Linked DNA regions of Homo sapiens. The protein of the gene in region 1 interacts with the protein of each later gene in a pairwise test. Each region holds a gene or a part of one and is shown on either strand. Other genes may lie near its edges.

Evidence for each region. The genes of interacting proteins can lie anywhere in the genome.
Region 2: the proteins of PROM1 (region 1) and LYPD6B interact in a protein complementation assay, tested with the Homo sapiens proteins (one study listed by IntAct).

What each region holds. Positions count from the first base shown.
Region 1 is NC_000004.12:16,081,005-16,087,858, forward strand, and holds the start of PROM1 (prominin-1 isoform 1 precursor), read right to left. Parts: upstream 3,020-6,854; 5' UTR 2,974-3,019; intron 2,726-2,973; exon of another isoform or gene 1,101-2,725; intron 1-1,100. UniProt on the Homo sapiens protein: May play a role in cell differentiation, proliferation and apoptosis. Binds cholesterol in cholesterol-containing plasma membrane microdomains and may play a role in the organization of the apical plasma membrane in epithelial cells.
Region 2 is NC_000002.12:149,160,667-149,167,702, reverse strand, and holds part of LYPD6B (ly6/PLAUR domain-containing protein 6B), read right to left. Parts: intron 6,940-7,036; coding exon 6,868-6,939; intron 6,255-6,867; coding exon of another isoform or gene 6,226-6,254; intron 1-6,225. UniProt on the Homo sapiens protein: Likely acts as a modulator of nicotinic acetylcholine receptors (nAChRs) activity. In vitro acts on nAChRs in a subtype- and stoichiometry-dependent manner.

The sequences.
Region 1 (6,854 bases):
ACCATCCTTTCAAGAAGTCCTTTTATATATATACATATACATATATATATGTATATGTATATATATTTTTTTATTATACTTTAAGTTCTAGGGTACATGTGCACAATGTGCATGTTTGTTACATGTGTATACATGTGCCATGTCGGTGTGCTGCACCTATTAACTCGTCATTTACATTAGGTATATGTCCTAATGCTATCCCTCCCCACTCCCGCCACCTGACAACAGGCCCCGGTGTGTGATGTTCCCCTTCCTGTGTCCAAGTGTTTTCATTGTTCAATTCCCAACAAACGGTGCTGGGAAACCTGGCTAGCCATATGTAGAAAGCTGAAACTGGATCCCTTCCTTACACCTTATACAAAAATTAATTCAAGATGGATTAAAAACTTAAATGTTAGACCTAAAACCATAAAAACCCTAGAAGAAAACCTAGGCAATACCATTCAGGACATAGGCATGGGCAAGGACTTCATGTCTAAAACACCAAAAGCAATGGCAACAAAAGCCAAAATTGACAAATGGGATCTAATTAAACTAAAGAGCTTCTGCAGAGCAAAAGAAACTACCATCAGAGTGAACAGGCAACTTACAGAATCCAAGAAGTCCTTTATCTGATAAAAATTACCCCCGACTCAGCTTCCACTGTTTTAACAAAGTATCTTGACCCTTAACAAATCTCAGAAATAGCTCTTTGCTCCCTGAAAAACCTATTTCCTTTATATTTTAAACAGTACCAACTTGGTTTAAAGTTTTCAGCTTGTCCTCTGATGCATTTGTTCACCTCATTGTACTAAAACACAAAGAAACTGTCTCGTATAAAAATCAGAAGGAAGTTTAGAAATCAGAAAGAAGTTTAGAAAAGTTTAGAAATCAGAAGGAAGTTTAGAAAAAAATTATGGAACACATGAAAAAAAAAACAAGAATAAACTAAAGGGCACTGCTGAATAGACAGACAACAGCAACAGTAAGGGGGCTCTGGTCCCCCTTACTAACTCTGCCAAGATGACAGTTGTTTGAATTCTCCAACCCTTCTTCTGCTCCTCTGTCAAAGGAGGATTTCGCATAGGGTTCGCAGGCTAGCGATCTAATAGGTAAAGCACCTGGCACGCAGCTGGAAGGCTATCTGGGGTCTGTCTGCTTCTGCTAGCATCAATACTCTGAGCTCAACTCCACCGGGGCTCCTAGGATAACCGGGACAGAAAGGACGGTGAGAAAAGAAAAATGAGTAACATCACACAAGTTGAATCATATGAGGTTGACGATATTCACATCTTCCATCCAAAAAACCGACAATTTCTTATGATTCAACCCAACATATCGCAGCGGTTGTTCGTGTCGCATGAGTCTCGGGGGGCACTCAAGAACTACGATCGTGCACTTGCTTTCTTAACAAAGAACAGCTGCCGCCCTCAGGAACTCCAGCAAACCTTTCTCCAGAAAGGTCAGTCGCCTTAGCGGGCTCCAGGAGCAACCTGTTGCAGAATGAAGCCTGGGGCGCCGGCTTCCCCGCCCTTTACCTCCAAACCACCTCCAGGCCAAGCCCCCTCCAGGCCTAGCTCCCTTCTGGGCGGAAGCCTCTCGCGAGCTGCGGGACACAAAAGAATGAGCGGCGGGGCGGGCGCGGGAAGCCAAGAGACTCCAGGAATTCGCAGCCGCGCAGGGGAGGGGGTTGCCGGAGTAACTTGGCTGCTCTGAGCGCGTCGGCGCCAGTTCCCCGCCGCGGCCCCTGTTGGGCACCGATCGGGGGCGATCTTGCCAGAGAGAAGGGGTTCTGGAGCTAGTTCCTCCCTCCGATCCGACTCCCTGCCCCTCCAGACACGGGCTTTCGGGGAAACTGATCCCGAGCCTCTGACTTTCTACAGCCGTGAAGCTCCTGGTCTGTCCACGCTCCTCTTTGTTGTCCGGTCGGCGTGTTCTGGCAGGGTGCGCCTTGAGCACCCCAGTTCTCCATCTAGCGATAGCCGCGGGTCCCCGCGCATGCAAGCAGAAGGGCCGTGGAGCGAGAGGCTGGGAAGGTGCTTCAAGCCAGGGGTGCATGCTTTCTCCCACGGACGCGGGGAGATGGCCTCGCTTTGTACCCCCATATCCCTACTCCCGCTGTGGTCGGCTGCACAGTGTTGGCCCATTTCCGCACTCAGCCAGGGAAGCTCAGCGCCTCACGTCCCCGGGGCCATCCCTAGAGTTTCCTTTACCGCAGACTCGTTCCCAAGACCCTGGCGAGTCTCACCTCGGTCACCGTTCTCCCCGAGAGCGAGTCCGAAGTCTCTGGGGCCCCGGTCCAGTTCGCACACTCACCTCCGACTCCCGCTCCGGAACCACGGCCGCCGGCTACCCCCACCCCCGCCCCCATCCCCAGTGGATGGAAAGAAGACCCAAGCGGGGCGTCGCGGGCCACCACTCAGACTAAAAAGTTTGGGTTGGACGGGCACCGGCACCACCACGCTCTCCCCGCAGTTCCTCTGGCCCCCAGCCGCTGTCCGGGCCCGCACCACCTGCTGAGGGGCCAGGGAGGCGGCGCAGATGGCTAGGGTAAGGGGGGCGCAGAGCGAACCCGTCCACTCCTCACTGTACACCCCCAGTACAGTGGAAGGAGTGCGCTCAGCCCCGCGCCTGGTCAGCAGATGCCTCTCTCGCTCCGGGATGAGGACCCAGCTACTCACCGTGCACCCGGCTCCCGCTCCTGCTCCCGCCCTAGTCACCGCTGCCGCCGCCCTTCCCTTAGCTCGCCAGACCCTGGCTCGTGAATTATTTATGACCCGGCTTCTGGGACCACCGCGACGGCTTTCGGAGAGCCCGCCTCCCACTGCCGGCCGCGGAGGGGCTCAGGCGGCGCTGCGGCCGGACCCTCGGACGTGGCGGGAGGCAGGAGAAAGGCCCGGGTGCCCGGGGGGACCCGTTGCGGCTTCCTCTGTCCCGGACGGGGACCTAGGTATGGGGCCGCCGTAATGGAAAGGATTCCTTAAACATACTCACCGCGGCGGGAGAGCTGAGAGCATGGCCAGGTGCCGCGTGGGGATCTGCCTCAGTCACTTAAAGATCGCGAAACCCGAGCCCTGGACGCACTCTGATTGGACCGGCTGAGCTGCTTCGCCACGTAGCCCTGGGGCGCCCACCAGCACCTGGACAGCATCCATTTCCTGTAGAGGTGCCTGCTCAACCCCCTGCACTCCCTTCTTGCAACGCTTGCGCCTCTTTTCCCCCCGCAGAGTCCCTTACTTAGAATGCAGCTACCCTCCTAAAAACTCTCCTGTCTCATCCCGGCCGCATTAGACCCTTCTGTTGCCTAATCCCAATGCAATTTAAAACAAAACAAAACAAAACAAAACAAAACAAAAAACAAAAAAACAATCATTTGGATCCTTAGTGTGCAGCAGTACCAATGCTAGTGGCTGAAGCGGTTGAAAAACAGCATAAAGCCATATTCGCTCCCATGTGTACACACAGGCATCTGCTATAACGTGAAGCCACTGCAACTTCTTTTCTCACTGCCTATTGGTCTTCCCGCTCTGTGAGTTACAACTCAACCTCGGAGTCTTCACCTTGCTACTTAGCTGAGTGGTGGAAACCTGTCAGAAGTAATCACTCGGTGTCTAAGTGTCCTCACCAATTTGCACTTCACTCTTATTCACCACTTCTTATCTTGAATTGAGAATACTGTACTCTCCGGCAGGCAAAAAAAAGACTTAGGGAAGAAATGCACCTTCAGGATGGTGTCTAGCATACAGCAGGTGTTTAATACATGTTTGTGATATGGATAGACAGATGAAAGGATGGATGCACAAGCTACAAATGAATGATAGACAGGAACATTAAGTCAGTACCTTTTTCTTTTTACCCCAGAATCTAACATAAAACAGGTACTGGAAAATAAGCATTTTTTGTTTTTAATAGTTAGATTGATCTTGAGTGTGTATATTTCTAGACAAGAAATGTTAGTTCAGAAAACTTCCAAAAAGTACAGTAGGACATGGCAAGGTTAGATGGTTTGGCTCTGTGTCCCCATCCAAATCTCATATTGAATTATAATTCACTGGGAGAGGGACCTAGTGGGAGGTGATTGGATTATGAGGGCGGATTTCTCCCTTGCTGTTCTCATGATAGTGAGTGAGTTCTCAGGATATCTGATGATTTAAAAGTGTGTGGCACTTCCCCTTTGCTCGCTCTGTCTCTCCTTCTGCCATGTGAAGATGTGCTTGCTTTCCCTTCTTCCACCATAATTGTAAGTTTCCTGAAGCCTCTCTGGCCATGCCTACGGTACAGCCTCTGAAACCCAGTCTCAGGTAGTTCTTTATAGCAATGTGAGATCAAACTAATATGGGTGGAAAACAAATCTCTTCTAATCAGGGCAGATTTCCCCTCTGCAGCCCCTGCAGGTCAGAAGTTTCTGGTTGAACATCTGCTGGGGTCCCATAAACCTTCTCCTAGATAGCACTTTTAGGCTGGAGCTAGCAAAAGAGGTGATTTCTCAAAGGAGTGGGTCCTGATCTCCGTCAAAGTTTGGTCCCGCCTCTTTTAATCGCTGTGACTTTGGCTGCTTAATATTTCTCTGAGCCTCAGTTTCCTGGTCTGCAAAATGAAGACAATTATAACTCACAGGGCTCATTTTCATTCCTAATAATATCAACAACAATAGTATCAGTAGAAAGGGGTGAAGCAAGATGGTCAAATAGAAGGTTTGACCACCCACCCCCCACCCCGGCTAGGAACACAATTTAACTGCTATCTACACACACAAAAAGCACCTTTATAAGAACCAAAAATCAGGTGAGTAACCACAATACCTGGTTTTAATTTCATATTACTGAAAGAGGCACTGAAGAAGCCAGGAAAGACAGTTTTGATTTGCCAATGCCGCCAGTCCTCCATCCCCCAGCAGCAGCAGCCTTGTGGCTTGGGAAAGGGAGAGTGCAGTGATTGGGAGACTTTGAATTGAACTCAGTACTGCTCTGTCATAGCAGAAAGCAAAACTAGGCTGAACTCAGCCAATTTCCCTCAGAGGAAATAGCCCATACCAGTGGTGAAAACTTGAGTTTCAGTAAAGTGCTCTGGGGCCCCAAATAACCTTAAAGGCAGCCTAGGCCACAAGGACAGCAACTCCTAAGCAAGCCCAAATGCTGAGCTCAGAGCCAGTAGACTTGGAGGGCATGCGACTTACTGAGACACCAGACAGGGGAGCTAAGGGAGTGCTTGTGACACCCCTACCCCAACCCCAGGTAGTGCTGTTAGTGGCTCTTCATCACTGCATGCCCTTTTCTAGCACTCATGCCTCTTTTACCCCAGCAGAGCTCTCTACTTGGAATGCAGCTACCCTCCTAAAAATGCTCCTCTCTCAAAAACTCTCAGCCACATTAGACCCTTCTGTTGCCTAATCCCAATGCAGTTAAAAAAACAAAACAAAAATAATCATTTGGATCCTTAGTGTCTGCATCAGTCCCAATGCTAGTGGCTGGAGTGATTAAAAACAGCACGAAGAGACCCATTCCTTCTGCTTGAAGAGAAGAGGGGGAAGAGTAAAGAGGACTTTGTTATCTTGAATATCAGTTTAGCCACAGTAGGACAGGGCATCAGTCTGAGTCATCAGACCCCCATCCCAGGTCCTAACTTGTGGATAACATTTCTAGACACATCCTGGGCCAGAAGGGAAACTGCTGCCTTGAAGGGAAAGAAACAGTCTGGGCAGGACCCATCACCTGTTGGCTAAAGAGCCCTTGGGTTCTCAATAGCCAGAAGCAATACTCAGGTAGTACACTGTGGTTCTTGGGTGTGACTCTGAGATCTGCTGGTTTCAGGTGAGACCCAGTATATTCCCAACTGTGGTGGCTAATGTGAGAGACTCCTTCTGCTTGACAAAAGCAGAAGGAAAAGTAAAGAGGATGTTTTCCTTCCCCTTAGGTACCAGCTCAGCCACAGGGAGGTAGAGTACTAAGCAGGCTCTTGGGGTGGTCTTCAATGCCCAGACACCAATGAATATCCAAAAGCTTCCAGACCACCCAGGAAAACATGACCTCACCAAACAAACTAAATAAGTCCCCAGGGAACAACCCTGGAGAAATAGAGATATGTGATGTTTCAGACAGAGAATTCAAAATCAATATCTTGAAGAAACTCAGAGAAAATTAAGATAACACAGAAAAAGAATTCAGAATTCTATCAGATAAATTTAATAGAGATATTGAAATAATTTTAAAGAATCAAGCAGAAATTCTCAAGTTTAAAAATGCAACTGACATACTGAAGAATGCATCAGAGTCTTTCAATAGCAGAATTGATTAAGGAGAAGAAATAGTGCACTTTTAAAGACAGGCTATTAGAAAATACAGTCAGAGAAGACAAAGAAAAAAGAATAAAAAATAATGAAGCATGCCTACAAGATCTAGAAAATTACCTAAAAAAGCAAATCTAAGAGTTACTGGCCTTAAAGACAAGGTCGAGAAAGAGATGGGGTAGAAAGATTATTCAAAGGGATAATATCAGAGAACCACTCAAACCTATAGAAAAGTATCAATATCCAAATACAAGAATTGTATAGAACACCTAGCAGATAAACCCAAAGATGACTACTCCAAGGCATGCAATAATCAAATTCCCAGAGGTCTAGGATAAAGGATCCTAAAAGCAGCAAAAGAAAAGAAAGAATTAACAAACAATGGAGCTGCAATACATCTGGCAGCAGACTATTCAGTGGAAACCTGACAGCCCAGGAGAGAGTGGCGTGACATACTTAAGCTGCTGGAGGGAAAAAACTTTTACCCTAGAATAATATATACAGCAAAAATATTCTTCAAACATGAAGGAGAAATAAAGACTTTCTCAGACAAACAAAAGCAGAGGGATTTCATCAACACCAGACCTGT
Region 2 (7,036 bases), on another chromosome or scaffold:
TGCCACATCTGAAACATCCTCTATGGTGATAAGGTGAATAAAACCTCCCTTTCAGGAAGGAGGATGACTTACTCATGCACGTGAGGACCCTGTGGTGAACCACAATTTTCTGAGCCTGCTCCCCCACTGTCCCAGAAGACCCAGCTGTCTCTCATCTATACCTCCCCACACACGTACCACACTCACATCCTTCTCCTGGGCACCACTAGTGCCCCAAAAAAGGCAATGTTAGCAAAAGCCAAAGGCAAACTCATGTTAATCAACCAAACCTCCTAAAAAGCAAAGCTGCAGGCTTTGGTAGTCCTGATTGACCAAGCAGGAGGCAGCAAAAAGGACAGTGGTAGGTTTGCCAGATATATCACAGAAAGCAATTAAGTTTATGGCAGGGAAAAAACAGCTCCAAAGCCCCCTGAAACAAAAGACGCTTCCTGCCTGTAGTCTGTCCTGGGCCATTCTGTCATAATGGCAGGCTGAGCTATTCAACTGCAGCAGCCAACAGTAAAATACTGTTTGGAGAGAGAACCAGCCCAATCTCGACTGCAGAGACCTGCCTGTCAGGTTTTCATTTCTATGCTAGGGGATAAACTGTCCCAGCTGGTTTGAATAAGAAACGAGGAAAGTGAGCATCCACAAGAGAAAAAAAAAAAACACTTAATGCAGAAGAGGATTATAAACTCTTCAAGATTAGTTGAAGGAAAAGATTATGAAGGTAACAGGGTTTCCACTGGTATGGGGAAAATAACCCTAGGATGTCGTGGTTGACAAGCAAGAAAGCTGTCCTGAGAAGTTTTTGGTGTGGGAAGGTGAGCAATGATGGAAGGGGCGGGGCAGTCTGCAGCTTGGGTCTCCCTAGTCCCCATCCTGTGATCTCTCCTCTCTGGTGGGACCATGCATGTCCAGATTGCCCATTTTCCAGCTCAGATTCTAGCTGGAGTCCATATTAGGGTGAACATGCAAATTCTCATGAGTGCAAAGTTGTAGCAAACACTCTCGGTAGCAATGCAACAGACATTGATGCCAACCTGAGCCCACATAAGACGATGAGGGTGTCAGAAGGAGGCCAGTTGTAGAGTCAAGAGACAAGGATGGGATTTAAGGGAGATAAGATGCTAGACAGCCAGAGTGACTTCCCTTAAGCCTTAGATTGGCAGTCTCTCCCCCACTCCATAGCTAAATGGAGAGTGAGATATGACCATCCTGGAGACGCAAGTCTAGTCCTGGCTCCTAAATGTGCCATGCCCCTCAAACAGAAAGGGTCCCTAATTTATAGATTAGAAAACTGAGGCACAGAGAGGTTAAGTAACTTCTTATTGTAACTCATATTGGTACTATGAGCCACTTTATTCATGGCTGCAAGGGTGACCTCAAAAATGTCAGCAAAATTTGTCATTTTTCTTAGATAAACCACCTGTTCTACCTGGACACTGGACTTAATTGAGTTCAACAAACCCTAGATTAAAAAGGCTATCAACCCACCCTTTCCTTGGGATAGTCCTTAAACAAAAAGCTAAATAAACACAACATTTTTTTCTTTGAGGCTAAGTCTTTCTGATTACTTGAAACCAAAAAATAAGAGGCTACCTGAAAGGTTATAGAGGGCGTTATTAAATATCCTCATTCTTCAAATGCCTGCCAACCAAAGAGAAGAATAAGAACCCTCTACCTCCACCCCTACCCCCAGGAAATACTGTTGGGCTCAGGAGAATTACTGTGTGTTCCATGGGATAATAAGTGTCTTTATTACATCTAATTAGGGTCTCCTATAATGTGACAGAACCATTTTTGGTCACTTGGGTGTACCCAGGAAGGCCTAGCAACCATCTCTAAATAGCCAATCCCCCTGTCTCTAGAAAAACCACACAGTCCAAGAGAGAACTCTGCTAGGAGTCAGAAAGATGTAATTTCCATTAACTTGAGAAGCATTAGGGTTAACATGCAGACTCTGAAGCCTGACCTCCTGGAGTGGAATCCCAGGTCTACGACTTAGCTGTATGACTTCGAGGGAAGTTGCTTAACCGCTCTGTGCCTCAGTTTTCTCACCTATAAGTTAGGGATAAAAATAACACCTATTCATAAGATTTTGTAATGACCAAATGAGTTATGATATCTAAAGGACTCCATATAGTGCTGGGCATATAGTAAAAACAATATTAGTGCCTGCTTGTGTTGTTATTAACTTTATTATATTCTTAGGTACATTACTGAAGACCTCCACTTTCCAGACTCCTCTCAGATGGGCTGACAAGACCATCCCTATTCCAGGATTTTTAAATGACAAAATAATTTTAAAGTAATTTCAGATTGCTTTTATAACAAAGTTAAGAGCCTGCAATAAATTTAAAATGGCCATGCATTCTTTGCAGCTACTCCAAGTTAGAGGTGGAGTCTATTTCCAATGCCCTCCCCTTGAATCTGGGCTGGTCCTATAGCTTTCTTTGACCAACAGAATGTGGCAGAAGAGAGGCTACGTAATTTCTGAGTTTAGGCTTCAAGCTTATAGTTTTTGCTCTTGTCCTCTTGCCAGAAAGTTCTGTCATGTCAAGGAGGCTGAGCTAGGCTATTGGAGGGGCAGACCATGTGGCAGAAATGAGTCATCTCAGCTGAGATCCCCTAGATCACCTAGCTCCAAGGTACCAGCTGAGCACAGGGGCATGAGTGACCCCAGGTGAAACTAACAGAAGAACCACCCAGCTGAGCCCAAATGGCAATATTAGCAAAAGTGCCCAAATTGCTGACCCACAGAATCATGAGCAAATTAAACAGCTGTTGTTTTAAGCCACTATGTATGAGGTGGTTTGTTGTGCAATAGATAACTGATGCAGAGCCCTCACTGATACAAATGAGGATTTATTATCAATAGTATTTCAAACACACACACATAAAACCAGGCCACTTGCCAGCAGGTTTACCAACCATCACAAGGTGTTTCCAAGCTCTTATATCACCCACCTAGGGCCAGTGAGGCAGCACATTCACTTGGAAAAAGCTAAGACCAATTAGTGATCAAATTTGGGAAGATGGAGGCAAGCTTTCAGCACCAAGGTAGGGTGCCAAGTTAGATCCTTGTAGAGGGATATCGTGGGAATACAGGATTTTGTTTGTTCCTTTTAGTCTGCAATAGAATACAAAGCCAGAAATGCCTGAATTTGGCTTCCTTGGAAGCAGTGTTATTCCACAGGTCTTGGATATTGCACAACAGTGTGGGTAGACACCTTCATGGCATGAGTCACAAAATTCAAGATCAGCATCACTAAGGGAGAATCAGGGGAGCCAGTCAGAACCAATCATGTCATATCCATGGTCCAGATATGTGGCTCCAAGAATGCAGGAAGCCCAGAATGCCTTCATTTTATTCTGCTGGTAAAAGCAAGTGAAGGACTTCAGGATATGCCACCCCAAAACACACTGTATTAGTATGATTATTTTGAGCTGAAGGCATTTGAAAAACAGCAAGTGCAGAGAGAGGCTTGCTCTGAGCTCCCCTTATCTGCCTAAAGACAGACAGATGCTCCAAAAGAAACTAGGTTGTCATCAATTCCCTCCACAGAAGTTTCATCAACCAGAGGAGATTAAATCTTATCACCGGTAAGGAAACTAGAACACACACCCCACCCAGACAAACTCTGTCACAAACTACCGTATCTCCGATCTATTCTTCTGAGGGCCCATTCATCTTCCCAAAAAATCATTTACTCTTCTCTTATTTGCCTACGTCCTTCCTCCTCTCTCTCTTACGAAGAGAATATATGAGCTCCTAAATCTGACTATGTCTTTGGATATTCACTTTCTTTCCTATGATGCACTCATGCATATAATAAATTTGCATACCTTTTCTCCTGTTAATCTGCCTGTTGTCAGTTTATTTCATAGACCCAATTGTTGACCCCCCAGGTTAGAGCAAAAGTCTTCCCTTCCCAAAACAAGAGAATGATTACATTCTAAGCTTTGATTTTACTGTGACCTAAGCAAAAGGTTACTTCACTCCAGGACACAGGGGGAAAAAATAGCAAGTTCCATAAATCAGTGTTCCCTCACCTGTAACCTGAGGGAAGAACTGATACCCAACTTTATAGGGAAATTACTCTGAAATATATGATGAGAGGATCTGGAGGCTTAAGTCCCCATTTGTTATAAACAAAGCTAACACATTGAAATGAAAACAATCTTACTCAATTATTTGATAAGCTGGACAGCCATGATGCTAAAGGTTCTTACACAAGCCCGGTAGCCTTTGTCTGTGCATTACTTGTTTGTTCTTCTGTTTGTTGATTTCATACCTTGTACTATCTATTTTGTGGGTATGTCAGCATGGAGGAAGAAGTTTGTTGAGGGTGCAGAGGCGGGAATGGCAAGAATTATATAAAAGTAAGACCCTCTCCTTCCAAGAGCTTACAGGTCTGATCATCTTGAAAAACAAAATTCCCTGCTTAAAGCATCTCAGAGTAACTCCACTGAGCTCAACCAAAATTGCTGCATCTATTGAAACTCCTCAGGTTATGAATCAAGAGAGTTCAGAAAACTCCTGACTGTGTGGAATTACAGAGCTGATGAGATGTTCACAGATGAAGATGCCATAAAATAAAGTAACTTACAGCTAGTTTTGGCACAGAGCTGAATCTGGGCTCCAGGCAAGCAGGACTCCTGCCCCACCCCCCACAGAGACCCCTCTCAAGATGCAAGGTATTTAAAATGTGAGGGGATGCAGGCACCCCACAATTCCAACCCAGTTGCCCAGAAAACAGAAATTAGCTATCACATATGGTGAGCAGAAACTCCGCACTTATCACGTAGGAGCAAGTCAAGGATATAACTTCTTGTGGAGTAGACTTAAGGCTCTCTAACCATACACATTTAATAGAGTACTCAGCAGCCATTAAAACAGGCAAAAGCGCAAGAAACGACTTGGTTACGTTTAAAGTTCAAAACTTAAGTACATAGAGACTATGTGAAAAAAGTAAATACAAAGGGGAAAACAACAGCAAAATACACTAAAGTGTTCATGACTACAACTGGCACCTTTTAAAATTGGGTGATTTTTACTCTTAATTCTTTCTGCTGTTCTCCATAGGCCAAATATGCTTTAACGATCTTGAACTACTTAAATGCTCTTGAATTTTTTGGCTACCTTCATGCAGAAGAGATAGCTAGAGTGTCAACAGTAGGTGGTGGTCAGGACAAAAGGGAATGCAAGCAGGGGTGAGTGTGGACATCGAGTAAAGCACAGCCGTAAATACTCCACATGGGTTGGCCCCATTCAGTGCTGTTCAATGGGTTACATTCCAGTTCTGCCACCTTTTAGCTTGTCTAACTTTGGGCAACTTACCTAATCTCTTAGGTAAGCCTCAGTTTCCTCAACTATAAAAGGTGGATATTAATAGACCCTTCCTTACAGGAATGCTGTGCAGATTGAGTGAGAGAATGCATGCAAAATGCTTAGGGTGTTGCCTGGTAGACAGTAAGAACAAACAAATGTTACCTGTAGTGATGGTGGTGATAGAGATGGTTAATAATAGAGTTACATTTTATCACCACGGTGATCATGATGATGATGATCCTGACACTGTTTAACACTGTTACTAACAATGAATTACGTTTCCTTGCTTTGGAAAATGACCCAATGTTCCCATATGTCTTATGACTAGACCGTCATTCCTCTGATCCTCAAGTCCTCTGGGTTTCTTACTAGCAGATTCTTAAGTTGAAGTTACAGCTCACATTCCACCCAATATGCCCCGGGGAAAAGAGTGATGATAATATATAAATTCCTGCTTGTTGTCTTGGGCCTTATTAGGGTCATAAAATGTTATCCATTTAGAAAGGCATCTTAGTAGATATTTTACAGAATTCTGCTTTGTACTTGAAACATATAATTATCATTAACAAACACAGGTGCTAATAATTCAATCTGCTCTTTAGGCAAGAAACAGGAACATAAACATGGCCCTGGCCAGATCAGCTCATAATCTTAAGCAATTTCCTTTGCATGTTTCCTCCCTCTCTTCCAGCCATCAGATGCAAAGTGGGAGGCCTGTTTGACAGGCAGAAGGCCTCTGGGCTGGTAGTTGATAGCCTTGATAGCCAAGAAGAAGACCATGAGACAACCAGGCCCAGTCCCCGAAGCCTCACACAGGCATTCCTTGGCATTTGCCACCTGCCCTCAGAAAAACCAAACCTCTGATTTGATGTCTTCACCTAAAAAAATGGAATCAGGCCTGACACACTAACCTGGTCAGCCTGCGCAGTAAGCACCACACCTAAAACCAAAAGACAAAATGCATCAAGTAAAAAGCAATCATCAATTAAACACATAACTTTCAATGTGCCCACGTCCATCTATGCTGTCTCTCTTCTTTGTTGGGGTAACACTCTCGTCCTGTTTTAGATCAGTAAATATTTTCTAAGGCTTAACATGCAAAGATTCTGTAACTACAAATGCTCAATAATTAGTGCACACATGTTCTAAGTGTATTCGGCAATGTATTTCACTTAATGCAGACACTTTTGAACATTGCTCCACACCCCCGACGCACCCCCATCTGTCACTGAGAAGATTACTCTGAGGAAGTTCTCTTTCAATTGACCAAATTAGCTTCTGTGGTAAGCAGAGAAGTCTTTGATCTACCAACCATTCGCTGAGCATGGGGACTCCCCTTTTTGGTTCACCAGAATTGTAACTTAAGCACAAGCCAGGCTTCCAAACCGCAGGATCACAGTGAGCAGTGAGGGCTTAGGATGGGAAACCTGGCAAACTGCCAAGGAGATGGGAAAAACACAGGGTCCCGGGACTTTCAGGAGTCCATTCCCAACAACTTAACCAGAGCTCCCAAATGAAAAGCCGAGGGCTGTTGTAACAGCTGCCATTCTTACCTTGAGAAGGAGAATGTGGTTGTCAGGCTCCTCTCTGGAACAGTGAAAAGGTTTGCACTCAGAGTAATCAGCCTACCAGAGATAAAAAAAGATAAGGAAAGAGCCACTGCTGACGATGAGTAACGTTCTTGAACAACTGGAATGTTTTCTAACAAAAGGCAGGTTTCTG